4 linked regions of the Homo sapiens genome follow. The protein of the gene in region 2 interacts with the protein of the main gene of each other region in a biochemical or structural test. Each region holds a gene or a part of one and is shown on either strand. Other genes may lie near its edges.

The links.
Region 1: the proteins of DLG3 (region 2) and NET1 interact in a test that uses a peptide from one of them, tested with the Homo sapiens proteins (2 studies listed by IntAct, with this or other methods).
Region 3: the proteins of DLG3 (region 2) and LRP2 interact in a biophysical measurement, tested with the Homo sapiens proteins (one study listed by IntAct).
Region 4: the proteins of DLG3 (region 2) and FRMPD4 interact in a test that uses a peptide from one of them, tested with the Homo sapiens proteins (2 studies listed by IntAct, with this or other methods).

The regions. Positions count from the first base shown.
Region 1 is NC_000010.11:5,450,535-5,457,560, forward strand, and holds part of NET1 (neuroepithelial cell-transforming gene 1 protein), read left to right. Parts: intron 1-1,295; coding exon 1,296-1,403; intron 1,404-1,823; coding exon 1,824-1,991; intron 1,992-2,290; exon of another isoform or gene 2,291-2,323; coding exon 2,324-2,386; intron 2,387-2,715; coding exon 2,716-2,812; intron 2,813-2,949; coding exon 2,950-3,026; intron 3,027-3,730; coding exon 3,731-3,988; intron 3,989-4,413; coding exon 4,414-4,584; intron 4,585-5,552; coding exon 5,553-5,739; intron 5,740-6,053; coding exon 6,054-6,460; 3' UTR 6,461-7,026. UniProt on the Homo sapiens protein: Acts as a guanine nucleotide exchange factor (GEF) for RhoA GTPase. May be involved in activation of the SAPK/JNK pathway Stimulates genotoxic stress-induced RHOB activity in breast cancer cells leading to their cell death.
Region 2 is NC_000023.11:70,475,833-70,482,858, forward strand, and holds part of DLG3 (disks large homolog 3), read left to right. Parts: exon of another isoform or gene 1-1,796; coding exon of another isoform or gene 1,797-1,800; intron 1,801-3,317; coding exon 3,318-3,432; intron 3,433-7,026. UniProt on the Homo sapiens protein: Required for learning most likely through its role in synaptic plasticity following NMDA receptor signaling.
Region 3 is NC_000002.12:169,128,509-169,135,534, reverse strand, and holds part of LRP2 (low-density lipoprotein receptor-related protein 2 precursor), read left to right. Parts: intron 1-2,853; coding exon 2,854-2,961; intron 2,962-6,450; coding exon 6,451-6,522; intron 6,523-6,704; coding exon 6,705-6,872; 3' UTR 6,873-7,026. UniProt on the Homo sapiens protein: Multiligand endocytic receptor. Acts together with CUBN to mediate endocytosis of high-density lipoproteins. Mediates receptor-mediated uptake of polybasic drugs such as aprotinin, aminoglycosides and polymyxin B.
Region 4 is NC_000023.11:12,715,447-12,722,472, forward strand, and holds part of FRMPD4 (FERM and PDZ domain-containing protein 4), read left to right. Parts: intron 1-622; coding exon 623-1,687; intron 1,688-2,054; coding exon 2,055-3,344; intron 3,345-5,082; coding exon of another isoform or gene 5,083-5,087; coding exon 5,088-6,412; 3' UTR 6,413-7,026. UniProt on the Homo sapiens protein: Positive regulator of dendritic spine morphogenesis and density. Required for the maintenance of excitatory synaptic transmission. Binds phosphatidylinositol 4,5-bisphosphate.

The sequences.
Region 1 (7,026 bases), on a different chromosome or scaffold from region 2:
ACTTTAGTCATGTCAAAGAATTTTTAGAAAAAGTTGCTTCTTCTGTTATTTTTAAATGATGTCTTATTTTTCAGTGATAATTTTAATATAATTTTAAATTATATATCCTCCTGGATTCTCATCAAAATTATTTTGTCAAGTATGCCACAATTGTCAGAAGCACAAAATACAAATAGTTATGCTCCATAGACATAAAGAATAGACCTGCTAGTTTTATGATCTGGCATTCTTCATTTCAGTAACTGTGTGAGTCACCTACTGGTATGCCTCCATTTTTCTAGCGATAAAATTAGAATAATGCAATTTTTGTAAAGTTTCAAAATCCTTGAATAAGTGATGTGTTTGCTATATTATTATTTAAAAGCAATAACATGTAGAATCATAACTATTTCTTCTCGATTTGTATATATCTTTCCTTTAAGTTAATAAATTACTGTTTGAGAGAGGATCTAATTTATCTATGAATCCCAGTGTTTATGTAGTAAATGGAAATATTCCTAAAATCTGTTAGTAATAGCTCAAACTGAGTATGTGCCAGGCACTGTTTCAAGCCATATTATTCATTTAATCTTCACAACAACTTCATAAGAGAAGTGCTACTTTTAGCCCCATTTTATAGATGAGAAAACTGATGCCAAGGGTGTGCCCTAGCAAGTGGTAGAGCCGGGATTTGTGCCCAGTCAGATTTCAGAGCCTGGGTGCTCTTTTAACTCCTCCCTGCCTTGGCTTCAATATTTTTCAGCCCATTCCAGTGTCAGACATGTTGATTGAAAGGTTGTATTTTCTAACGGAAGTAGTTAAGAATGAAATGATACAATGTCTGAGATTTGCTTTAAAACATTTAAGTAGGGACAAAAATGAAACAAATTGTTATACCAGACACTGTGGAGGCCCCTCGATAGACACATGGGATCCATTATGCCATTCTCCACTTTCATGTATGTTCGAAAATTTTCATAACAATAAGGCTTTTTTTTAAAAAAAAAAAAAGTTATTCCCTGCATTAAACTGAAAAGTTCATTAGATTTTAGGATGTAATTTCCTTGTTTGAATTTTAATTTTTTCCCCTATTGGAAATATTTGACTGGCCTTTCTTACACACTTATTTTTTGAAAAGTTACTGCTACTCAATAGAGTTCTTATTGTTTTGACAATGAAGAACAACTCTTACTTTCATGTTTCTGTATTTTATAATGTACAAAAATTGTTTTGTGAGAGGGCTTTACTTTGTCCAAGTTTGTATGAAATCATTGCACCTAGACATATATTTAGTGTCATCTGGTTTGTTTTTATAGGAGCCAAGCAATAAAAGAGTTCGACCTCTGGCTCGTGTCACGTCCTTGGCAAATTTAATCTCTCCTGTAAGAAATGGAGCTGTCAGACGTTTTGGTCAAACAATACAGGTAAAAAGAGAGGAGGAAGAGTAATGTAGTCAGCGGACTTTATAGAAGCCTGGAATTTGTAGTTGTCTTTGAGCTGTACAAACAAGTTTGCATTATTATATTTAAACATAGTTTTCTTTTTGGAATATGCTAGTAAGGAATATTGTTCCAGAACAATGTGTAGCCTCATTATATTAATTTGCATCTTATATTAATTTGCATCTTATAATGCATAGTCTTGGCTAGTTTTTATTCCCAAAAATGTAATTTTAGCTGATAAATATTTAAGATTGGTAGGTGGAAACTTGGATAAATTATTGTTTTCTGCATTGAGAAATTCTCAGAACTTTGTCTTTCTTCACTTTAAAAAAAAAGAAAATGGGAATAATTCTATTTCTTCCAAATCTTATTTTCTCTTTTGTTCACCTTTTCTTTTTTAAGTCATTTACCCTTCGTGGTGACCACAGATCCCCAGCCTCTGCCCAGAAGTTTTCTAGCAGGTCAACAGTCCCAACACCCGCCAAGAGAAGGAGCAGTGCACTGTGGTCAGAGATGCTGGACATCACCATGAAGGAGTCTCTCACCACCAGGGAGATCAGACGGCAGGAGGTATGCTGGCACTCAGTGTACATGTTTTCCCAAAAGAACAGCAAATTGATGCCGATGGCAAAATTAACTTGGATTTTTGTGTTTGAGCAACAATTCCTAATACATGGTGAACAAAACCTAATGATGGATGGTGGTCAAATTAAACAACTCTAATAGGGTAAACTTACCAAACATACGGCAACCTTGTATTTGAGATTCCATTCTGAATTACAATTTTCAGACTGAGTTACTTTTTAAAATGCCGTTCAAAACATCAAATAATGTAATTATCAGTTGTATATAATTTTCCTTTCTCGAAGGAATGACCTCTGATGTTTGCTGGATGTTTTTAGGCAATATATGAAATGTCCCGAGGTGAACAGGATTTAATTGAGGATCTCAAACTTGCAAGAAAGGTCAGTAAATAACTTTTTATCAGATGCCCTAGTTTTTAAAAATTACATTTCACAAAATCTAAAGGATAGTTTTCTTAACCTTTAGAAGTAGAAGAATAGAAAATATCTACTGGTGAATACATTTTTTTTAGGTGAGGTCTAGACACATCCTCAAATACAAGTATTAGTAAGAGAGTTTATTTGGGGATTAATACATACTAATTTATTTTATGTGTAGCAAACAGAATCCACGCTAGCTTTTATGTAATTAATTCTCTTTGTTTCCAAGTATAGATCCCTCATGTTTTCCTCACATGATCTCTCTGTGACACATTTCTCCCCTCTGACAGGCCTATCATGACCCCATGTTAAAGTTGTCCATCATGTCAGAAGAGGAACTCACACATATATTTGGTGATCTGGACTCTTACATACCTCTGCATGAAGGTTAGATGTGCCACTTAATTGTCATTAAATCTAAAGAGCAGCGGTGCATGTAATTTTCAGTCTAAACTTCTAATGTAGTGCTGACCTATTTTTTAAATAAACCTGTTAATGGTGTTTATGCTTTTTTATCACTTCAGATTTGTTGACAAGAATAGGAGAAGCAACCAAGCCTGATGGAACAGTGGAGCAGATTGGTCACATTCTCGTGAGCTGGGTATGTAGTGAGTTGTTGACCCCAGATACAGTTTCTTACAGATGTGCCATGTTGCAGTTTCTGATGAATATGAGACAGATTTGATCCCACAACTCTGTTCTACAAACACATAAGGCGTTAAAACTGAACAAATTTACAGTGACATAAGAAGTTACAGTCTGTTTAAAAAAAAAAAAAAACACCTTCATTAATGCTATAGGTTCATTTGTGTTACAAATACGTTCCTGCTTGGATAGAATTCCCACATCATGTGTGATTATCCGTTGCATTCTGTCATGTATGTTTAAGCGCATGCCAAATGCGGGGCACTGTTTGAGGAGGAGTCGCTGGGAGTCAGTGATGAAAGGCAGTCTCTGCCTTTATAGCCTAGTGAAGGAATAGCCAAGCACATAAACAGTCTCAGGGCTGGTGGCAAATGGAGGACACTCAAGTGTCCTGGGAGCACAGACTGCCAGTGTCTGAGGTTGGAGGGGAGTAGAAGTCATGAATCTTCACTTGGATTTAGCCAAATTATGAAAATTTGAAGAGCATTTTGATGATTGCTAAAATGCTATTCAGCTTCCATTATTATCTGCCAGAAAATGTCCACAGCTTGTTAAAACTCTCAAGAATAGCTGTACATTTTGTGTTTCATGTTTGCAGGCTTGTTAATGCACTCGGTCATAACAGGAACACATCATACCTTTTCTTTTATTACTCTTCAGTTACCGCGCTTGAATGCCTACAGAGGTTACTGTAGTAACCAGCTGGCAGCCAAAGCTCTTCTTGATCAAAAGAAACAGGATCCAAGAGTCCAAGACTTCCTCCAGCGATGTCTCGAGTCTCCCTTCAGTCGAAAACTAGATCTTTGGAGTTTCCTAGATATCCCTCGAAGTCGCCTAGTCAAATACCCTTTACTGTTAAAAGAAATTCTTAAACACACTCCAAAAGAGCACCCTGATGTTCAGCTTCTGGAGGATGCTGTAAGTAGTCCCTTAAGTGATTGTTTTGTTTTTTAAGTTTATACATTAGGCTGCTTTAGAACGTTATCTTCTGAAGATGCTGATTCACATCAGCATAGTGAATTGTTTTGTTGTTTTAAGTACCCAGTGCGTTAGTACGCTGTGCACTAAGCAATAAGGAGCTGTGTATGCTGGACTTCGCACATTTTGTATCTTAAGGGACAGGATTCTCATCTGATCTCACCTTGTCACCTTTGAACAAATCACTCAATTTGGCTAGGACTGTTTCTTGATCTATAAAATGAACAGACTGGCAGAATTAACTGATTTCTAGAGTCCCTTCAAGCTTTAAAGTTCTTCCATTCCATATGACATTTTTGCTCTGCAGGAAGCAGAATGAGTTAATAAACTGAAGCTGCTCTGTCAATTTTATTTATCATTTTCAGATATTGATAATACAGGGAGTCCTCTCTGATATCAACTTGAAGAAAGGTGAATCCGAGTGCCAGTATTACATCGACAAGCTGGAGTACCTGGATGAAAAGCAGAGGGACCCCAGAATCGAAGCGAGCAAAGTGCTGCTGTGCCATGGGGAGCTGCGGAGCAAGAGTGGACATGTAGGTGACTTTTGCTGCCGTGGCAGAGCAGCCTTCCCTCCTGCCTCTTTAACTTTTACACGTTTGTTATGAAGCAGGCTTGTAAAGGGAAAGTCATGACATAGTAAAAGAAGGTTGCCAATTTTAATTTTATATTACCAGCTTGATAAAGCCAACAAAGAAGATACCTTAAATGTCTCAGTGGAGAATCAGTAATACTTTATTTTTTAGTTTCGAAGCATAAATCAACTTGTTAGGCCAGGGGTTCCTGTCTAAATACAGTATTAGTTCCATAATGCTTAATAAAAAAGCATCCTTCAAAAAAAACTTCTAAGAGTTTATCTTATGCTTATGAAAGTGGTTTTTCGCACTACATAACAAATTTCTGAAGCAGATTGAATGAATGCAAATGTATTTTTTAAATGCTAATTATAAAAGTACCTGCTAGAACTAAGTGCAGTCACGGAATGGTATTTTTGTTTCATCATGCATTTTCAAAAGCCCAATTTATAAGTTGGAGTTTTGTTTAAAAAAATTTGAAATCTGACATCTTTGATTTTTCCCTCACGAGGGGAAAATTTATAAAGGTATAAATTTGTGTGGGACAAAATAGAACCATTAACATTTTACCAGCTTGCATTTTTAATCCCTCCTTCGTGTTAGAAAACTGTGGTATACAACGCTAGTGTTTCAAGTCATGTTGCTACTAATAGGTCTTTGTGATGCAGAGCATTCACTTAGCTGCTGCTTAATCTGATATTACATACCAATAAGAAACATTTTATTTATTCTGAGATTGGAAAAACTTTCCAAATAGAACATGCTTAGCCTTGAAATTGCCATCTTTATGGATTACTAGATTTGTCACTTAGAGAGATCTTCGAAAAATAAATCTGATGAAATTAATAATGTCGAGTTATTTTAGCAATATATTTCAGTCACTTAAAAACACAAGTTTCCTATTTAGCGTTTGTTTCCCATTTCTCCAGAAACTTTACATTTTCCTGTTTCAAGACATCTTGGTTCTGACTCGGCCCGTCACACGGAACGAACGGCACTCTTACCAGGTTTACCGGCAGCCAATCCCAGTCCAAGAGCTAGTCCTAGAAGACCTGCAGGATGGAGATGTGAGAATGGGAGGCTCCTTTCGAGGAGCTTTCAGTAACTCAGAGAAAGGTAAAATGCAGGCCTTCAATAATTTAAAGAAATAGAAGCTCAGAACTGAAGTGAATTTAGTTTTGCCTTTAAGAATTCTAGAGATGAAATGGCTCCATTGTCCTATACTTGTTACATCCATTGAGTTGTCCAGGCCTTCCCAGCTCGAACACCCGCAGGTGTATCTAAGAAATAATGCATAGGCTTAATGTATTCACATTGACATAAATAAATTGCCATAAATTGACAGTCACGTTAAGATTGTATGACCACTTTGTCTAGAATAAACCTTTTTTTAGCCTGATTTCTTTTTTTTTTCCAATTTTTTTTTTCAGCTAAAAATATCTTTAGAATTCGCTTCCATGACCCCTCTCCAGCCCAGTCTCACACTCTGCAAGCCAATGACGTGTTCCACAAGCAGCAGTGGTTCAACTGTATTCGAGCGGCCATTGCCCCCTTCCAGTCGGCAGGCAGTCCACCTGAGCTGCAGGGCCTGCCGGAGCTGCACGAAGAGTGTGAGGGGAACCACCCCTCTGCGAGGAAACTCACAGCCCAGAGGAGGGCATCCACAGTTTCCAGTGTTACTCAGGTAGAAGTTGATGAAAACGCTTACAGATGTGGCTCTGGCATGCAGATGGCAGAGGACAGCAAGAGCTTAAAGACACACCAGACACAGCCCGGCATCCGAAGAGCGAGGGACAAAGCCCTTTCTGGTGGCAAACGGAAAGAGACTTTGGTGTAGAGAAGGCTCTGTGTGTTAACTGATGGGAGAGACTGTTTGTTTATAAATGTGTACAGTTTTGTTTTCTCGTAAGGGGAGCATCATAGGGTTACTTTATACCAGTTGTAACATTTTCATTGTTTTTGGTTGTTCTTTTTTCTTTTTTTAATGGCAGCTAAAGATATACAGATTACTGTTAAATTGCAGTCCTTTTTTTTTTAAAGATATTTTCTTGAATTATTTAGAACATGGTAAGCCTGGTATTTTTTAATCAAACAAAATATTTATGAAATGGGTTTTCTCTTAATTCTGGATTCATCATGGCTTTCTAATACCAATTGTAATATTTACAATATTCACCAAAACTTAGAATTTTGCAAATGCTGGAATTCTGCCAGTGTTTCTTTGCTAAGCCTTGCATGCAAAATTTGAAATTTTAACATTGGCACCCAAAACCTACATGGAATGTATGTCTGGAGTATTTCAAACTTTACATTGAAACATAATTTCCTTGGAAAACAAACCATAAGCCTGAGGAGGTTTTTATCAACTGGAATGCTTTATATTAGTTTGTTTTTCACTGTACA
Region 2 (7,026 bases):
TAGGGCTTTCCTTTCCTGAAGGATTTGCAATTGTATTACCAAGTTTTATTTTTGAGAGCTTATCCACTCTCTGGCCCCACCTTTCTTTTCAGAGACACTGCAGGATCCAATTCTGTAAGTTAAGACCAGCAGCTCCAAACTTTATCAGAATCACACTGATGCTTGTTAAAATGCAGATTCCTGGGCCCCTGCTCAGTAGATTCTGATTCTGTGTATCTGGGATGGGGTGCCAAATCCTGATCTTTTAGAGGCACCCCAACTTGTCAGTGACTGGGGCAAAACCCTTCTTCGGTACTGACTTCTGATTGTGCCCCCTCCCACTTGTTTCTCTGTGATTAGCAACTGGGAAAAAGGAAAGAGGGCGATGACTGGATATCTTTGTGGGTCACAAACAGTTGGGTTCATCTGAATGGGAAAAAACAAAGCAGTTTAGTAGACTTGAGATTTTAGTGTTGCTTCTTTGAAGTGGGCCCTCTGGGTTAGAGGCTGGTCAGGTGGGCTTCCTAGGCGGTGACTTTGGCCTAGGAGATGTCCTCCAGCATTGGCTGCGATGGCTGTGTTAGTGACAAATCAGAGGGAAGGAGGGAGCTTGGCGAGTCCTGAAGTCTTAGAATTGAGATGCTTTTTAAGGGAAGCTTTTGTCCTGGGAAAATGATACCTCTAATATTTAAGATGAGGTAGTATCTAAGTCTATTCTAAACAGTTTTTTGTTAGAATGATTTTTCTTTGTTGTAAAAAGTTGTTAATCAGCCGCCTATTGTGGGTTGTTAACATCTCAAAAGGGTGTTTAAAAATAATAAACCCCAATTGCTCCCAACAATTAACCTTGGGAACAAAAGTAAATGTGAATGCTTCTTAACCACCTTTCTAAGCCCTCAGTGAAGCTGGCAGCCATCAGTTAAATAAACCATTAAGTTTATTAGTTTAAGAATAGAAGTGTCAACTTGGACACAGTTTTCTAATTTGCTCCTCATTTACCCAACAATCATTTATTCAAAGGCTGCTCTGCCTAGTAGACTTTAGATAAATCTACAAATAAAAGCCAGAGACTGATGGGCAGCTGGAACTCTAAGGGAATCATCCAAATGGAAAAAAAAGTGAATAAAACACAATTTAATAAACTTGAAATTTTAGCAGCACATGTAAAAACAAAAAGCGTATGCCTTAGAGCAATAGCTTTGTTCTCTTTCTGTAGTCTATTTTAAGTGGGCCCTCTGGCCCAGAATTATCAGCCTTGGATTAGGAGCTTTGAGGAAATGGTGGTTTCGTGGTTGTTTTTTAAAGGATTTTTAAAGAAATGTAGTTACTAAGCAACTGCCATGACCTGCTGCTAAGTTGGAGTTCAGCGGGCAAGTCGATTCCAAAGAAGGGAATATATAAACAAGTTTCAAGAAGGGGAAAACATGGCTTAAAGATAGATTGGGTGTACTTTTTTGTTCACAGTTCAATGCATAGTTCTTTCTCTCTTTGACTTATCTTCCCCTAAGAAAGGGCTGCCTGGTCAGAAATCTTTGTCTCACACGGTTCTGCCCATAGCCGGTGAGCTCAGAGGAGGGCCAGAAAGGAACAAATGAGAAACAATCCCCACCCAGTGTAGAGGGCCAAGCCCTGGGGTGGGGCCAGCACCCAGGCGGTCTCCAGAGGTAGACTGGCCTGCTGTTATGCTCTAGGACAGTCCAGGGCTTAGGTTGGGGCACCTCATTGATATTGATGGCTTGCCGTGTAACCCTCAGAACAGGAACATTGTCCAGCTGTTGTCTCTCTACCCTCCGCCACCCCACCCCCCGCAACGTTTAATGGGTGAGTCAGTGACTTAACTGCTTCCTCCAGGATTTCAGGAACAGGAGTAGGTAATGAGGACAAATCACCATAACACCGGCGTGTGATGAATGAAAGAGCACACGAATTTAACCCGTTGGTTAAACTGATATCACAGTGAACAAAAGAAACTTTGTTGAGAGGAGGTTATTTGCCTCACTCCATTCCTTCCCCTTTAGGCTTTAGCAATTCCCCTTACACCCAGTTGAAGGTCAGTCTGGTTGCTTTGCAGAGGGAAGGGGAGTGTCAGGTGCTGGAACAGGTGTTTTGTTTTCTCCTGTAGAGTCATACGGACTAGGTGGGGATGCTTCTTGCCAGCCCTCTATGGTGCACGAAATTGCTTTTGTGGAATTTTTTCCCCTGGAAGTGTGTTTGTTTTTTAAAGCAGTTTCCCAACCTTCAACCCCTAGTATAAATTTTGACTCGCTTCAAAGTCAGCTTGTCATAGTGAAGTGTGCCTGTTTTCTAGCATTTCCACGGCCTGTGGCCTTAGATATACCCCATTTTATGCGGCAATTATAGGCCTGGAAAATGTGTAATTGTGTGTTTGGTAAGTGTGAATATTGTATTTTAAATGTCCTAGGAGAATGTCACAGCAAAGCAGCCCTATAAAAAGCCTTTTATAATAATTGTACAGCTAGAGTTAATTTTCTTGTATCAGGTTTTCTTAAATTCGGCATAAACCTGTATTACATTTCCAGAGTGATAAGGCTGTTTCCAGCTGTTGTGATGGTCTCAATGGGCTATAAGGTTAGGGATGGACTTATGACCTCACTGACTGGATGATTTTGGAGGTGAGAGGTGTCAGCCGACTTCTCGGTTTGGGAGAATTTATGTTTTAATGTATGCTACTGAAGCCAAAGAGGCTATTGGTTAAAAGGGAAATAACTCAGGAGAGCTTTAATTCTCCTCATATGGTTGTTACGGTTGTGAGGTTTGTTTGTTTTTACCTCTGTACTGGGTTCCAATATCACCCCCCTTCACCCCAGCCAAAAAGTCATCCTGAAAAAATTGTCTTCTTGCCTAACAATGATATAATTGACCTCAGGTCCTTTCCAGCCCCTCCGCTCTGCGTCTCAGGGCCATCTGTTCTCTGCAATCCGCTTTTTGGGAAAGTCTCCTTTCCCATCTGCTCTCCTTGGGCCTTAGTGTCAGCTCTAAAGATTTATAAAGGTTGCACTGGAACCTCTTTCCAGTTGTTATTTTTATAAAGGATCAGTGACATTTTGAGGCAGATAAGAGCTTTGTGCATTTGACCTGCCCAAATGCTACTCCCTTTTCAGGTGCATTCTTTCCTTCTGTTAGTCTGGGGTTGAAGGGAAGTCTGTCTTTCTGTGCTTAGGAGGAGGGACTTTGCTTATCAAAGCAAAGACTGAGTGGGCTGGCTCTGGCTGCTTTTAAGCCAAGGGGCCTTCTGGCTTTTTGGCTGCTGGCATGCAAGCTCAGAGGCGCTCCTTGAGTTCATTCTTTTCCCATCTTTTCCCTTGTTTCCGTGACAGAATACAGTCGCTTTGAATCGAAGATACATGACTTACGAGAACAAATGATGAACAGCAGCATGAGCTCTGGGTCTGGGTCCCTCCGAACAAGTGAAAAGAGGTCCTTGTATGTCAGGTAAGTTGCCCTTCAGAGCACTAGCCCTTGTGCTGGACGAGGAGAGCTCCATGCCAACCCAGCCCTTCTTATTTAACTAGTGGGCTAGGGAGTATGTACTCCCAGTTCTAAAATAACGCTTCTCACTGTATGCTTAGGTTGTGTATTTTATGGTCAGTGTCTCCTCCCTTTTGTGAGCTGGCTTCTTCCTTTTAGCTCATGAATGACTCAGTATGGGAAAATTTCAGTTTGCTCTAATTGTAAAAGACTGTTGGGTGATTGTTGCTAGTCAGCATTCAAATATCAGTCAAATGTTCAAAGTACTTTGCTTGCAATCTGTGCTTTGAGGGGAAACTTGCCACCCCCCCATCCCCTTCCATGTATGCATAATAGACATCAGGATTTGTATCTGAGCATAGCAACTATCGCAGTGTTCTGGTACAGGATCTCTTTTAAGAGACCAAAGAACTGACAGGTTGCTGCATTCTGGATGTTTTATTGTGATTCCATTCCCCCCTCACCACCCGCTGCACTGGTCTGCTGTATCTATGAATCATGGGATGTATAGTGTATGTGCCCTAGGAAGAGGGAGGGGGTGGAGGGAACAGATAGGTAGCATGGAGTATATTGCTGCTGAAAGCTATTCCAAGATATTTCCAAGGTTGAGCTTCTCTGACCCTTGAGGCATAGCTTAATACTTTGTCAGGTCAAAGTACAAATCTCCTGGGGAGTTGGAGTGCCAAGTGAATACTGTGGACTCCTCATAGAATTAGGGATAGCTTCCTTCTTCCTGCTTTGGCTTCTTGGCAAAACTCCAAAATCTGGTGCCAAGTACATTGTATCCTCCAAGGTTAAAGCCCTTAGAGAAAGGTGGTGGGGATTACTCTCCTGAGCCAGAAGTTGCTACAGTATTGTGTTTAATGCTTAGGTGTGGGGTCATATCAAACTCTTGGGCTGAACTTTTTCTAGTGGCCTCTGATACCTGGCTGGGAAGTTGCACTTGCTAGTTGCTTGGCAACGTGACAACTGCTCTGTCCTTGGGGTGTGAGAGGACAATAGTGAAGGGATGTCAACGCTAATTGCAGTTTTTCTCATGGTGCTTGCTTTTCTTTTTCCCCAGTTGGTGGTCCCTGACTCTACCGCAGGGAGTGGAGCTAAAGGAGCCCATCTCTGAGCCTGAAGCCCACTAGAACCCTTCACAATCTTTCCTAATGTGAACCCTCAACTCCACCCCTTGTGTGTTGAAAGCATGTGCTATGCTTACCTCCCGCTGTGAAGGGAGAATGGTAGGAAGGCGGGACTAGTCACTGGTCATTTTTCCAATTCCCCGGAAAGGAAAGTTTTGTTTTCTGTCACTAAAGCCCTTGCTCCCAGTCTGCAGCCTGGATACTGGGGTGCTGATGGGTGAAATCAGAAATGCACTGTCGACCCCCCAAAATAGGTAATGGTTATATGACTTGGTCAGGATTGTTCCGTTCCGTGCTTCCAGCCCCCGCAGATGTGGCACTCCAGTGTGCGTGGGAAGCTGCTCTTTAGGCAAGACAGTTTCTTTGGAGAGCTTTATTTTTAGATTTCCCCTCTCCGCCTATCCTGTGTTAGAGTTCTCTCTGCCTGGGCAGGGGGAGTGGGACATTGGCTCCCGATATGGAGCACTCTTCCCTGGCTCAGGCAAGGGAATTAAAGGGATACACTTAGCTTAACTCTGGGGCGAGGGTGGAGACCATGACTGTGTCTAGTGAATCAGTTTATATAATCTGCCCGTAACCTTCTCTAGATAAATTATCTGTATCCTCTGAGGAAAGTAGATGTGGTTAGGAAAATAGTAACCATTTGTGATCACTAGATTTAATCAGGGGCACTTAATGTCTTATGGCTAAAGCATTGAGCTGAGGCCCTTTGCTAAGCTAACCCCTTTATCAGAACCTGGCTTACTCTCTTCCCTTTTGTTCCTGATTTTGGCCCTTCACTCTACACTTGGTTCCTTTTCTTCAGCATGTAAACATATTTAAGCTTCTTCCATTCTTAAAAAGAAGAAAATATCCCTTGATACCAATAGTCCCTTAAACTATTGTCTTGTATCCCTTTGCTTACTGCATTTGCCAAATTATTGGCCAGAAAACACTAGCTCCTCAAGATATTACTAAGTATTGTGTGAAAAATCAGTGGTTTAGTAAGTTGGGCAAATGCAGGCTTAAACAGAGGAAAATGGGGCTCTTTCCTGTGATTAATCTCCAGGAAGGACTGTACTAGGCAGTGTTTCCCCAAAAGATAGAGCGTGGGAGCCTTATTTGAGAAACCTATGTCAACATCCAGGTTGGGAAATGTTGGAGTACTTGCTGCTGCTTCAAATCACTTCTCTTTCACTAGCCCGAAAGGAAGCGTGCATCTGCTTTTCAGTGTGGTAGTGTGGCTCTGAACAGCTCTGGAAAGCTCCAGGGGAGCAGAAACCTGACTCTCTGTCAGGGATCAGTGGGTGACTTCTTAGTCTTCAAATTTAGTGACTGGTTCACTGGTTCTCTGACATTGTTCTGACCTCTTCACCACATTTGTTTCCATGAATTACCTGCTTTCTTCTTTAAAGGCTCTCTTTCTACCCTGCTTACCATTCCTTAATACCTTTCATTAGCTCTGCCCCCCTAAATGGCAATGTCATTTATTTTCACAGCTTCAAATCCTGCCGTATAAATGACATTCCTGATCTCTTTACTGAACTACAGACCTGCATATCTACTACTTGCTGGACATGTGCATAAATAAAACTGCCCTCTCAGCGCCTCAAACAAGCGGCATGTACTTTCCTTATCTAAGTTAATTGCCTCACCCTATCATGTGGAAAAGGGATTAGATTTGTTCTGTCACCCAAGGCAGATCTCTGCTCAACATAAGGAAGGAAGAGCTAATGATTAAAACTGTCTGAAAATGGAATGGACTGCTTCCGGATATAGTAAATTCGATCTTTAGTCACTCAAGGTGTTACAGAAGAGGCTGGGCAACCATTTGCCTGGGTATTGCAGAGGGGGTTGAAACTAAAGCAATAATCTGAACATGATCTGCTCAAAAGCTTTCACTAGTTCCTCAGTGTCTTCAAGATAAAGGGGAACAAACATTTAGGGAACACATTGTTCATCAAGACCTTTGTTATTCTCTTTAAATGGCTTTTAATATCCCTTTAATAATCCTACAGAGTAGATATTATGATTCCCATTTTGCAGATGAGAAAACTGAGACTCCAGTTAGATAGCTAAGAAGTTCAAAAACTGGAACTTGAACTTGGTTGCTCTGACTATAAAGTGTGGTTCTTTCAGTGTTTCCCCAACTTCCTCATAGGAATCAGCTGGAATGCTAGTAAAAATACAGATTCCCAGGCTCCTTTTCTAGTGCTTTGGATTCATCAGGTTTGGGAAAATACATGTGTGGTGTTTTTTTTTTTTTTTTTTTTTTTGACGGAGTCTCGCTCTGTCGCCCAGGCTGGAGTGGAGTGCAGTGGCGCGATATAGGCTCACTACAAGCTCCGCCTCCTGGGTTCACGCCATTCTGCCTCAGCCTCCCGAGTAGCTGGGACTACAGGCGCCTGCCACCACACCCGGCTGATTTTTTGTATTTTTAGTAGAGACA
Region 3 (7,026 bases), on a different chromosome or scaffold from region 2:
CTGAGAAACTGCTTGGGTGACTTGACAAGTAAAGGCCGGTCCACTGTCGGACTGTATAGAGGTGGGAAGGCCAAACCGAGGAATTATGTCTGACAGAAGGGAAGAAATGACCGCAGTGGACTTCTCAGACCCTGTGGGAAAGGCCTCTTCCTATCCTGTGAAAGTGTCTACCCAGACCAAGAGGTATTTTAGTTTCCTGACTTGGGGCATGTGAGTAAAGTCAATTTGCCAGTCCTGGGCGGGGGAAAAACCCCGAGCTTGAGGTGTAGGGAAGGGAGGGGGCCTGAGAAATTCCTGAGGAGTAGTAGAATAGCAGATGGAACACTGAGAAGTGATTTCCTTGAGGATAGATTTCCACAATGGAAAGGAAATGAGAGGTTCTAAGAGACTGGCTAGTGGCTTGTAACCTACATGGAAGAGGTTATGAAATGATGACAGAATAGAATGGGCCTGTGAGGCTGGAAGGAGATATTTTCCTTGGTCTAAGAACCATTTGCCTTGTGTGGGAAGAGATTGATAGGTGGAAGTTTCAGCGGGGGACTAGGTGGGAGTGACTAATGTGAAGGAGAAAAACTGACTGTGAGGGACAGAAGTTGGAACGCTAGCTGCTTTTTTAGCTAATTTATCAGCATAAGCATTGTCCTGAGCGATGGGATCTGATGCCTTTTTGATGGCCCTTGCAGTGAATGACTCCAGCTTCCTCTGGAAGTAAAGCGGCTTTGAGAAGCGTTTTTATTAAAGACGCATTAATGATAGAGGACCCTTGTGTAGTGAGGAAACCTCTTGCATGGTGGTGCAGGATATGGAAGGCATATATAGAGTCAGTATAAATACTGACATGTAGTCCCTTTGCAAGAGTGAGGGTTTGACTTAAGGCAATGAGTTCGGCTTGCTGAGAGGTAGTGGAGCGGGGCAGAGCGGTAGCCTCAATGATAGATGTGGAAGATACTATAGCATAGCCTGCCTTTGCTGGTGAGTGGCGATTAGGCCTGGTGGAACTGCTATCAGTAAACCAAGTGTGTTCAGGGTGAGGAACAGGAAAAAAGGAAATATGGGGAAATGGGGTGAATGTCAGGTGGATCAGAGAGATACAGTCATGGGGGTCAGGTGTGGTATCCGTAGTAATGTGGGAGGCTGGATTGAAGTCTGGGCCAGAAACAATGGTAATTGTGGGAGACTCAACAAAGAGTGAGTACAGCTGAAGGAGCTGGGGAACAGACAGTATATGCGTCAGGTGGGAGAAAGAAAATAGATTTTGGAAGTTATGAGAACTGTAGAGAGTGAGTTGAGCATAGTTTGTGATTTTTAGGGCCTCTAAAAGTATTAAAGCAGTGGCAGCCGCTGCACGCAGACATGAGGGCTAGGCTAAAACAGTAAGGTCAAGTTGTTTGGACAGAAAGGCTACAGGGCACGGTCCCGGCTCTTGTGTAAGAATTCTGACTGCACTAACCATGCCTAGGAAGGAAAGGAGTTGTTGTTTTGTAGAAGGGATTGAGGTTTGGGAGATTAGTCAGACTTGATCAGCAGGGAGAGCATGTGTGTTTTTATGAGAATTATGCCGAAATAGGTAACAGATGAGGATGAAATTTGGGCTTGACTGAAGTAATGGGGGCTGTCTGTGAAGCTTTGCAGCAGTACAGCCCAGGTAATTTGCTGAGCCTGATGGGTGTCAGGTTCAGTCTAAGTGAAAGTGAAGAGAGGCTGGGATGACGGGTGCAAAGGAATAGTAAAGAAAGCATGTTTGAGATTCAGTCCGTCATCTTTAAGAAGAGCTGGGAGATGAAATAGGAATATAGGTGAAGGGAATAACTTTACATAAGGTCTGCATCAATAGCCCCAGCGCCACTTTTACTGCTTGTCAACTGCGAACATGTATCTCCTTTGTCACAACAACTATGGCCTTAGTGACAATGAATAACTGTCATTGTTAACACCTAATGCTCCTTTTGAACTCGAGATATGGCACATTTTAATACAGAAACTAGAAATGTTTATTTTACAAATATTTTGTGATTTTAAGATCGGAAATGTTTAAATCTTGAAAGCATTTTCCCTGATCCTCTGATAAACAGATATGAAAACTTTAATCACATGATAAAAGAGATACGACATTTCATTTGACATCTTCACTTAAAATAAAATGAGGCCATGTATACAAATGCATATCCAAGTTTCAGAATAAACAAGTAATGAATGTGAAAATATAGGAAAAGGAGTGAATTGTCTACCTTGTAGTTTATTATGCATTCATGGTAATTTGGTCTTAAAAGGGAACCTTGGAATTGTATGAATGTTATAGAAAAATGCGTAGAAGATTATTAATTCTATCATTCTCATCTTTTCAAAAATTCAACCTCTTTTTAGTAGTACTATGAAATCTTAATTTCCGAAGATAGGATTTATTAATATTCAAAGAAATTATTAAGATCCAAAGATAGGATTCTCAGTTCATCAGTGAGGTTGGGGAATTATTCTTGCTGTTCTTCTAGGATTTGGCTTCCAGTATATAACTAGAGTATGATTATCCAAAAATTTGGTCAACAGTGGGAGTAAGAAGGTATAGAGAATACAGTAGAAATTGCTAGTAATAAGTGAGAGTGTGACCAGTGAGGGATGTATTTGCCTCCCAGGATTAAGGTATGAGGTGACTTAGTGGTTGCTGCTCTTGATTTTGGGGCGGTGGGAGTGATGTTTAGTCCTGGCCTACTGGGTCATGCAATAAAAATGGTGCCTGATGATGTCTGTGGGAGAACAAGATGGCAAAAAGAGCCAGAGTTGGTACAAACTTTACAGCAAATTTATTTACTACTAAATTCTTTCAAAATTGGGTAAAGGCCTTTAACATGTCCACAGGTGACTGTATCTGAAAATGTGGATAATAAGAATTATGGAAGTCCCATAAACCCTTCTGAGATAGTTCCAGAGACAAACCCAACTTCACCAGCTGCTGATGGAACTCAGGTAACAGTTGCCGACTCCTGAAATAATGTGGGATTTGGAAAAACTTTGGGATGACTGGGTTTTTATTAACCTTAAGCAAACAAGGGAGATTCTGGAAGGCTCAAAGATCTCAAGATGTGTTGACAGTTAATAAATATAATTTTTTAAAAAGTCATAGATTGAAAAACTTTCCACCAAATAAAGCTACATTCTAACATCGAGTTGGGAATAATGTTCCTTGTAACATAGGAGGACATGTCACAAAGAAGAACAAATAGACTTCTGGATCCAGTATCTTCAGACCAGAGACATTTAAGTTGAGAAATTGACTCAGTATGAATAAAGATTTCACGGTGTCAAAGATACAGATGAAAGATCCGTCTGTGTGTGCCGTGATTTCTCTACAGCATGCATCTTTATTCTTTCAAGCTGTTCTTCGCTCTCCTGCTATTACAGATCTTTACCACTAGATGGCACTAATTTTTCCATTCATCATCCATCTATTCATTATTGGCCAACCAATCATCTAACTAACGTTATTCCCCTCGATGTGTCAGGGATGGTGTTTAATACTGGAGATTGAAAGAAAAAAATGCCACTAGATGGAGCTTCTTAAACATGCCTGCAGGTCCTTTGCAATTGGTACACTATTTGGTCTGCAGGAAGAAATTCAATAAATATATTTGATATTAAACTCTGTATTAATGTATATCATTAGTTTTAATGAATGCATTTGCAGCTATACCAGATATAGCTGTTTGAATCTGGACAAACTGTTTTACTTCTGGGGCTAGAGTCCTCAATAATATTTCTCACTGGGGGCGCTATTGGCATATTGAGTGGGACAGTTCTTTGTGCTACAAAACTGTCCTATGCACTCAGGGAATTTCAGTATTTCTGGTCCCTGTCCACTAAATTCCAGTAGTGTCTCCCCTAATTCAGTGTGACCCCAGAAATCACCTCCCCTCCCCAACACATGTGCACTCACTCCTGGTTGAGAACCGCTAGGATCTGGAATGTCTCTGTTCTAAGATTCTATGACCAATTTTGTGAAGTAATGTAAAGAAATGAAAGTCTAAGAGTAGTTGGAAATTTTACCATTTTATACAATCTTTATTTCTCAAATTTCATAGTCTATAAACATTGATATCTTGGTAACTTGGCAGTCTCATTATCACCTTAAACATTGGTTTCTGTTCTGCTGATTTAAATCAAAATAAAATTTGACCTAAATTGATGCTGAGAAGAGTCTATATCAAGGCTTCTGTACACCTTCTCAAATTCCCTTATTTCTTCTTCTCATGTCACACACACACACACACACACACACACACACACACTCATACACTCACAGACATACATAAATATTGTCTAGAAAGGAATTTTCAGTTTCAGATTTTTCAAGGGACTAAACATTTTTTCTTTAAGCTATATTAAAAATGGATTTTGAAGATTAATTTTCCACAGACACACGGATGCTTGAATGTCATATATTTGGTCCTCCAAGCCTGAGTCAACCCCAAGCTAGTGCCAGATTTATTTTATATTTTCAACATTTTTTCTCAGTCCATCTCTAGTCTAGTGATCTTCTTCACTAAATAGACATTTTCCCCAGCTGGTGCAGGAAGGGGACTGTGGTGGGGAGGCTGTAACCTCTGATCTGCATGTCTGTTATCAGAAACAAAATGTAAACTGACAGTCTCTTTCAAAGGAGAGCAGATCTTCACCAATTGTAGTCCTTTCTTTCTCTTCCCTTTTGTAATACCTTGGTTCCTCCTCTTACTTTTTTACATTAGTGAGGCTGAGACCCTCTAAAATGTGTCTTCCATGTTATGTCCAGGGATCTCACTGTATTTCTTCCCTCCTGGGCACTGAGTTAACAGCCAGCATGCTTTAAAAGCAGTAGAGGCGCTTGGGTGAGATCACCTAGGTTGATTTGAATATGCCAGAGTCCCACAAATGTATCTTTCATCCATAAATATGTTGAAAGACTAACAATTAAAAACATGGGCTGGGCACGGTGGCTCACACCTGTAATCCCAGCTCTTTGGGAGGCCGAGGTGGGTGGATCATGACATCAGGAGTTCAAGACCAACCTGGCCAACATAGTGAAACCCCATCTCTACTAAAAATGCAAAAATTAGCTGAGTGTGGTGGCATATGCCTGTAGTCCCAGCTATTCAGGAGGCTGAGGTGGGAGGATTGCTTGAACCCGGGAGGCAGAGGTTGTAGTGGGCCGAGACTGTGACACTGCACTCCAGCCTAGGCGACAGAGTGAGACTTCATCTCAAAAAAAAAAAAAAAAAGATTCAGTTCTATCATTTTCCAAAAGTTACATTGATATGCATAGGATCCCCCAAGGAGACAAAAATGAAAGTCACCGTCCCTTTCCTCTTGTTAGTAATTGCTTAACTTCAAGTTAGCCATTTCATTTTGAAGCAATGACATCTAAGAGACTTTGGCCCGCCCCACTTAACTGTAAGCGCCCAGAGGCAGGGCTCTGACCTGAATGTCTTCATGTTCCCCTTGGGGGCACTATGTACAAAGCAGGTTCTCACTTGAATGTGGGTTAAAGTGAAGACCTCTTCTACTTCTGTAGCCCTGTGTTCCCCACTCCTCCACAGGCTGGTCCCCTGCTGTCACAGAGTAAGAGACACCCCATAAAACCTGTGGGCTCCCTCAGCTCCTGTTGAGAGTAGGCTGTCTGTTCCCTTGTCTCCCACCAGGTTTTTATCTGGCAGTCAGCATGACAGGCAACTTTTCAGTAAAGCGTGGGCCACGCACCATGGTCCAGGGTGATTATCTTTGGGTTCTCCAGTTTATGGGCCTCTGGGTCCCCTGAGTAATCATTACCTGCCCTTCTACCTGCAAGTTAGTTGTATAATCTTGCTGTGACTCAGCAAGTATAGGATAATAAGTGTACCTACCTCTGGGGTTTGTTAAAAAAAATCAGAAACTTGTAAAACTCTTAGAATAGTTCCTGACACATAGTAAGCACTCAATAAATGTTAGATGTTTTTGTTATTATTATTGTGACACAGGAGGGAATGATGAAGGGAGAAGGGATACTCTTGAGTTGACCAAAGAATGTTACTTTAGGGAATAAGAGTTACAGTTTGGCTTTGCCATCTCCACCCAATTTTCAGGCAGCCCCAGAAATCTCTTTTTCTCCAGATGCATCTTGTGCATGTCTGTTTTATGTGTTCTCTCTGTACTGAGGTAACCAGGTGATTTGCTTGTAGATACTATGGCACAAATTCTATAATATATAAATTTGAAGTCAAAGAAGTGTTTAAAACCATTCGATTAAAAGAGCCCAGAGTTTCAGTTACTGTTCAGGGACCATAGGAGGAATTGAACAATTTACCATATGGGCTGAATCACATGGTCCCAGGTCCCAAATTGCTTTACCCTTCAGTAAGAAGAAATTTTAAAACTGAGACAGGAGGAAAAGAAACCCACAAAATAATTCCATTACTGAGAGGTTTTTGTTTTCCCCTTTTCATTTAGGTGACAAAATGGAATCTCTTCAAACGAAAATCTAAACAAACTACCAACTTTGAAAATCCAATCTATGCACAGGTAATTTTTAACAATTTTTCTTAGCACAGACATTTTTTCTTAGAAATTATTTGCTTGGTTAAATTGGACACACACTTAGATTATTCTGAGCAGAGTGGCCACAAATAGTCTTCTTTATGAAAAACCGTGTATGGTGACCTTGGGGGAATAAATGGCTGATTCCTGTTACATTGTATTCTTAGATGGAGAACGAGCAAAAGGAAAGTGTTGCTGCGACACCACCTCCATCACCTTCGCTCCCTGCTAAGCCTAAGCCTCCTTCGAGAAGAGACCCAACTCCAACCTATTCTGCAACAGAAGACACTTTTAAAGACACCGCAAATCTTGTTAAAGAAGACTCTGAAGTATAGCTATACCAGCTATTTAGGGAATAATTAGAAACACACTTTTGCACATATATTTTTTACAAACAGATGAAAAAAGTTAACATTCAGTACTTTATGAAAAAAATATATTTTTCCCTGTTTGCCTATAGTTGGAGGTATCCTGTGTGTCTTTTTTTAC
Region 4 (7,026 bases), about 58 Mb from region 2:
GCTGACATTTATACATGAATATTTTAACATCCACTAGGATATCAAAAGACTGAAGATAGAAGTTTTGTACTATCATTACAACATTTATCTTAATTTCCTAAAAACTATGGTAAAACTCTGACGATCCTTGACCGTCTCTGAATTCAATGAGGAAAACACTCAATATCTTCCTCCATGAAGTAGGGAATATTAAATCTCACCTTACAAGGAAAAGAACAATTAATGTTCTGGAATAACGGCCTATTGAAATCTCACCTTTAAGGGTAAAAGACATGTTGTATATTTACATTTGTAGATATGAATGAAGCCTTTTAATAATAGAACCAAGGGTCAGATGGAATTAAGCTATACTTCCCTACCCCCAGATGGTATTACATTTTATCAAATAGCAATTACAGTTTATGCAGTATCAATTTTGTTAAGGTCGGTTCTCCTAACCCAAGGAATTCTTACACCTGAAGCCTAAATCAATAAGTACTATATTTGGGTAGTTGAAAAACTGTATTTACATAAGTGATGCTACAAGCCATTAAGTTAAAAAACAGAGACGAGCCTCCCACCCCCGCCCCACCCAAAACCAGACAGTACAGTAATGTGTCTTTGCGTGATTCTTTCTCTTTAGGACCTGAAAACAAGGGGAAGCATAACCTCCTTGGCCCAGATTGGAACTGTATACCCCAAATGACCACCTTTATTGGCGAAGGGGAACAAGAAGCCCAGATAACATACATAGATTCAAAGCAGAAGACGGTGGAGATCACAGACAGCACCATGTGTCCAAAAGAGCACCGGCACTTGTACATAGACAATGCCTATAGTTCAGATGGACTTAACCAGCAGCTGAGCCAGCCCGGGGAGGCCCCCTGTGAGGCAGACTACAGAAGTCTAGCTCAGCGGTCCCTATTGACCCTCTCAGGACCAGAAACTCTGAAGAAAGCACAGGAATCTCCGAGAGGAGCTAAAGTGTCCTTTATTTTTGGAGACTTCGCCTTGGATGATGGTATTAGTCCCCCAACCCTTGGCTATGAAACGCTACTAGATGAGGGTCCTGAAATGCTGGAGAAGCAGAGAAATCTCTACATTGGCAGTGCCAATGACATGAAGGGCCTGGATCTCACTCCAGAGGCAGAGGGCATCCAGTTTGTGGAAAATTCTGTTTATGCAAACATAGGCGATGTGAAGAGCTTCCAGGCCGCGGAGGGGATCGAGGAACCCCTCTTGCATGACATCTGTTATGCAGAAAACACTGATGACGCGGAGGACGAGGACGAGGTGAGCTGCGAGGAGGACCTCGTGGTGGGGGAGATGAACCAGCCGGCCATCCTCAACCTGTCTGGGTCAAGCGATGACATCATTGACCTCACATCCCTGCCCCCTCCAGAAGGTGATGACAATGAGGATGACTTCCTGTTGCGTTCCTTGAACATGGCCATTGCCGCACCCCCACCTGGCTTTAGAGACAGTTCAGATGAAGAGGACTCTCAGAGCCAGGCAGCTTCCTTCCCCGAGGACAAGGAGAAAGGCAGCAGCCTGCAAAATGATGAGATCCCCGTGTCCCTCATTGACGCTGTGCCCACCAGCGCCGAAGGCAAGTGTGAGAAGGGACTGGATAATGCCGTCGTCTCCACGCTGGGAGCTCTAGAGGCTCTATCCGTGTCAGAAGAACAGCAGACCAGTGACAATTCAGGTTCTTTCACAATTGTTACATTCATTCACTGATAACCATATCATTCCATCCTTCCAAGCCATTTGCCCCTGGAGTCCTGTTACGTGGTGTTCTCCATTTCACACATGTCCCATTTCATAAATGTGCTGAAACTGCCATCATGGGTTTTTTTGTGTGTATGTGATTTCCTTTGTTATTTTTTTTTAAAAACATAAGGCACATCTCCCCCCACCCCCATTTCTGGAAAAACTGCAATAAACTCAGAGTCCTTACTGAAAAGGGAAAAACTTGGTATTTTGTTTTAGTAATAACGAGTCCCATTTTCTTACATGTCTCCAAGTGCCTCTGATGCATCCATTAATCAGTTCTTGTTTTTTACGGCATGCAGGTGTAGCCATCTTGCGGGCTTATAGTCCTGAGTCTTCGTCAGACTCGGGCAATGAAACTAACTCTTCTGAAATGACTGAGAGTTCTGAACTGGCCACAGCACAAAAACAGTCAGAAAACCTCTCCCGCATGTTCTTGGCCACTCACGAAGGCTACCACCCCCTTGCAGAAGAGCAGACCGAGTTCCCGGCCTCCAAGACCCCCGCTGGGGGCTTGCCTCCAAAGTCCTCGCACGCCCTGGCTGCTAGGCCAGCAACCGACCTCCCGCCCAAAGTTGTGCCTTCCAAGCAGTTACTTCACTCAGACCACATGGAGATGGAGCCTGAAACTATGGAGACTAAGTCGGTCACTGACTATTTTAGCAAACTGCACATGGGGTCGGTGGCATACTCCTGCACTAGCAAAAGGAAAAGCAAGCTGGCCGATGGTGAGGGGAAGGCACCCCCTAATGGGAACACAACAGGAAAAAAACAGCAGGGGACCAAAACGGCAGAGATGGAGGAGGAGGCCAGTGGTAAATTTGGTACTGTGTCTTCACGAGACAGTCAACACCTGAGCACTTTTAATCTGGAGAGAACTGCCTTTCGCAAGGACAGTCAAAGATGGTATGTGGCCACTGAAGGTGGGATGGCTGAAAAAAGTGGATTAGAAGCAGCAACAGGGAAAACCTTTCCAAGAGCTTCTGGTCTTGGGGCAAGGGAGGCCGAAGGGAAGGAAGAAGGAGCTCCTGATGGAGAAACCAGTGATGGCTCAGGACTTGGTCAAGGGGACCGCTTCTTAACTGACGTGACCTGTGCATCTTCAGCCAAAGACTTAGATAACCCAGAGGACGCTGACTCGTCCACCTGCGACCATCCTTCCAAGCTTCCTGAGGCTGATGAGAGTGTGGCCCGCCTTTGTGACTACCACTTGGCCAAGCGGATGTCATCACTGCAAAGCGAGGGCCATTTTTCTCTGCAGAGCTCCCAAGGCTCTTCAGTGGATGCAGGCTGTGGCACAGGCAGCAGTGGCAGTGCCTGTGCCACACCCGTGGAGTCGCCGCTCTGCCCCTCCCTGGGGAAGCACTTGATTCCTGACGCTTCTGGGAAAGGCGTGAATTACATTCCTTCAGAGGAGAGAGCCCCTGGGCTTCCCAACCACGGAGCCACCTTTAAGGAACTGCACCCACAGACAGAAGGGATGTGTCCACGGATGACAGTGCCTGCTCTGCACACAGCCATTAACACCGAACCCCTGTTTGGCACATTGAGAGATGGATGCCATCGGCTCCCCAAGATTAAGGAAACCACAGGTACAGCAATGATGGATTTAGCACTTTGTATGACATGCCAAGAGCATGTAAACCATATTTACAACAAACTTAAAAACGTAATGTCTGGAAGAAAAGTAAAAGGTAGAATTTTAAAAGGCCACAGAACTGTAAAGTACCAATCATTGATCCCCTGGTATTTAATAAATACTAAAGATTATAAAGGTGAAAATGGCATTTGCTCTTTATAATCTTACTCTGTGCTTGCTTTCAGAATTGGATGGGGCAATATGTTTTTCCTAAATTCTAAATGCAGATGTTTAGCAATGCCCAGTGTGACTTTTAGTTATATGATAGTATTGCTTAGAGTCACATAACAGTTTGATTTTCTTCCCAAGACATCTGAGTTCTAATTCTGCCATTTCATTATTGAGGGACAAGGAAGGATAAGAGAGCAGGGTATCAGGGAGATTGGAGGGGTTTGGAGAGATCATTTGCCTTTCGGCAATCTTACTGATTCCTCCCTACTCTGTAAGACTGCTCTATATGGATGTTCTGAAGTGTCTTGCATACCCCAGTGTCAGGAAGATTTTGAGGCTATTCCTGATGAGCTGCTTTATTTTCCCCAAAATAATAAAGTGTAAACACACGTAGAAAAAAGAACACATCCACCTTCTGTATCCCACCTTCACCACTCCACCACTCAATGGCAGGCATTCCCCTCACCGATCCACTTGGCTGGCCATCACATGGCAAAAGCAGATACTCTTTCATACTTTTATGTTTCAAATTATGTCATCAATAGTGTCTTTTCCATACAGGTCAATGGAAGTTAGTGACATCTTATATTGGTCATTTTCTATTCCTGTTCTTTTAAGATTTTCTACTTTCTCAAAACCCACCACTGGCTTTACCTCCTTTGGAAAAGCTGTCTGTGAATATCACCTAACTCATCACCCAACTGCATCTTTACCTCTAAACTAAGTCACACTGTTTAATCCTTCATGATTTATAAAGAACTTTCACCTGAGTTACCTCTTGCTTCTCACAAAAATTCTGTGAGATGGGGATTATTTGCTTCACATGACAGCTTTTCTTAAAGAAAAAAAAAAATGTTGAACAACTGGCCCAGTGTTTCAACTTCAGACTTTTACCAGGCAAACCTCATGCTGACTTCTTAAAAAGATTCACTTATTTAATTTGCACTAATTAAATTAGGCCACTTCTTTAAAAGAAAGAAAGGAAAGAAAGGAAAGGAAAGGAAAGGAAAGGAAAGGAAAGGAAAGGAAAGGAAAGGAAAGGAAAGAAAGAAAGAAAGAAAGAAAGAAAGAAAGAGAAAGAAAGAAAGGAGGAAGAAAGAAAGAAAAGAAAAGAAAAGTAACAATGCCAGATTTAACCTAATTCCCTTGAAATGAAACTTAATATCTCCAATATATTTGAATAATCTATACACAGTTGTTTTCTGTGTCTAAGCTTTGATGGGTAGATATTGGGAGTAAGGCAATTCATGAAATCCCTGAAAATGTTTGGGATTTCTAGACAATTCCAAATGAATCAGCAGTTCCAGAAATAACAGATTCCAGTATTTTCTTGATATTCATTAAAATGGAAATTTGTTATGAGATATCAAGAGGCAGTCTTTGGAAAGCAGGGTGACCTTAGCATCGGCAGCCCTTCCAGACTACAACCTTGAGAAATGACAGACATCATGTAGAGATGTAGTAAAAATGACCTCCCAGGAGATGCTTAATGATTCTCTCTGTTTTTCTACTACCCCTAGTGTAGCTTTGACAGAGCCTGGGAAGGAGAGACGAGGAGGCATGCCTTCAGCTTGGTCTCAACATCCTGAAGCTGATCCCATCCTGCTACCATCAAACATTCACTCGGAATCAAAGGTGCCAATTCCAAATCAAGACCCTAATGATTTCTCCCAAGCAAATCAGGCATACGGAGAGGCTGTGAGCTGGCGGCCACCGGATCTGAGAGGGGGGAGCCTCAGGACACCTCCCAGCCAGAAGGCTCTGAGACATAGCAGCAGTATCCTCTCCGGATCTGTCGATTTGGAGACCTTCCGAGAGAGAACCAAGGGTGCAGTCAGCTTAAAGTGTCCAGGCATCACAGAAGCACAGGAGGCCAGTTCTGAAAGGCGAGCAGAACTCCCCCTGGGGAGGAAGCTCACCAAAAGTTTTTCCCAAAGCTCAATGCACTTGAGCTCTGAGGGGAGGTTTCACAAAAGGTCCCCAGTGGCTCATAAAGACTCAAAGCTGTATAGGACATTACCCTTGCGGAAGCTGGAGGGCAGCAATTGGAGATGCCGGGGACCCTTCAGCTATTGCTTCCTGAACCGAGGGCAGGATGAAGATGGTGAGGAAGAAGAGGAGAGGGGAGAGGCCACCGTCCAGGTCTCTTGCCTCTATAGACCACAGATGACTCAAGCCATGCCAGAACCAAGCAGCCCATGCCTGGCTGTGGCGATTCAGAAGCAACGAGGGGAGCTATCCAGAGGGTCAGTGCTGAAGGTCTGGGCAGAAGACCTGCGAGACCCAGATGACTTGGACTTCAGCAACCTGGCTTTTGATGCCCGGATTGCAAGAATAAATGCCCTAAAGGAGAGCACATATGCAATGCCTGATGGGTTCCTTGCAGCCCAAAATGATGCCAATGAGCTGCTCTGTCTCGTCAGGGCAACCAAGGAGAAGAGGGAGGAGTCACGCCCTGAAGCGTACGACCTTACACTTTCTCAGTACAAGCAACTGTTATCCATTGAGTCCAGACAGTTGGGAAGTGCCTGTAGGAAAATGGCGATGGCTGAGAAAAGCCCGGAGGAGATGCTCCTAGCTATGACTTCCAGCTTTCAAGTGCTCTGTTGCCTAACAGAAGCTTGCATGCGATTAGTTAAAGTCGTGAACTCAGAAACACAGCGGCAGGAAATTGTAGGGAAGATCGATGAAGTGGTCATAAATTACATTTGTCTACTGAAAGCTGCCGAAGCAGCCACTGGAAAGAACCCTGGGGACCCTAATGTTGGACTCTCGGCGCGACACTCAACCACCATGGCCGCTCTCGTAAGCACACTGACACGTTCTCTCAAGAGGCTTTTAAACAAATAAATATGGAAGTCACGTCATAATCTACCTTTGCAAAGCCATACATGAACTTTTATTTACTTTGTGTGTATGATGAACAGATGTCTCCTTTCTTCTCTCTGTATATTTTGTTATTTTATATAAAATAGGAGATAAAAGTCACATTGATGAAATGTTGAAATGTACTAATCAGATGTATTCTGTTTATATTATACATATATATACACGTAAAAGAAATATCCAAGAAAGTGATGACATTTGGCTATTTTTCATATAGTTAAAACTCCAGGTATATGATGTGAAATTTTAAATTCTACCATGTTAGAGCAAAACAATGAATCCTATCCCCTTTCTTTCCAAGTAGCTACTTGGAAACCATATCATTCATATTTAGAAGTAAAACACAAAACAAAAAAGAGAGAGAAAAGAAAAGAAATCACAATGTATATAAAACAGTACTTATGTTTTAAAATTATGATTTTTAAGCATTGGAAATAGCAAAAAGACATTTAAAATTCAAGAAGCTATTATGAATTACTAGAGAATATATCTGTAATAAATTAATTTTTTGCTCATAGTATTTGGTTACTGGATGCTTTCTTCCAAGAATCCCACATATTTAATTTGGGTTTTTGCTA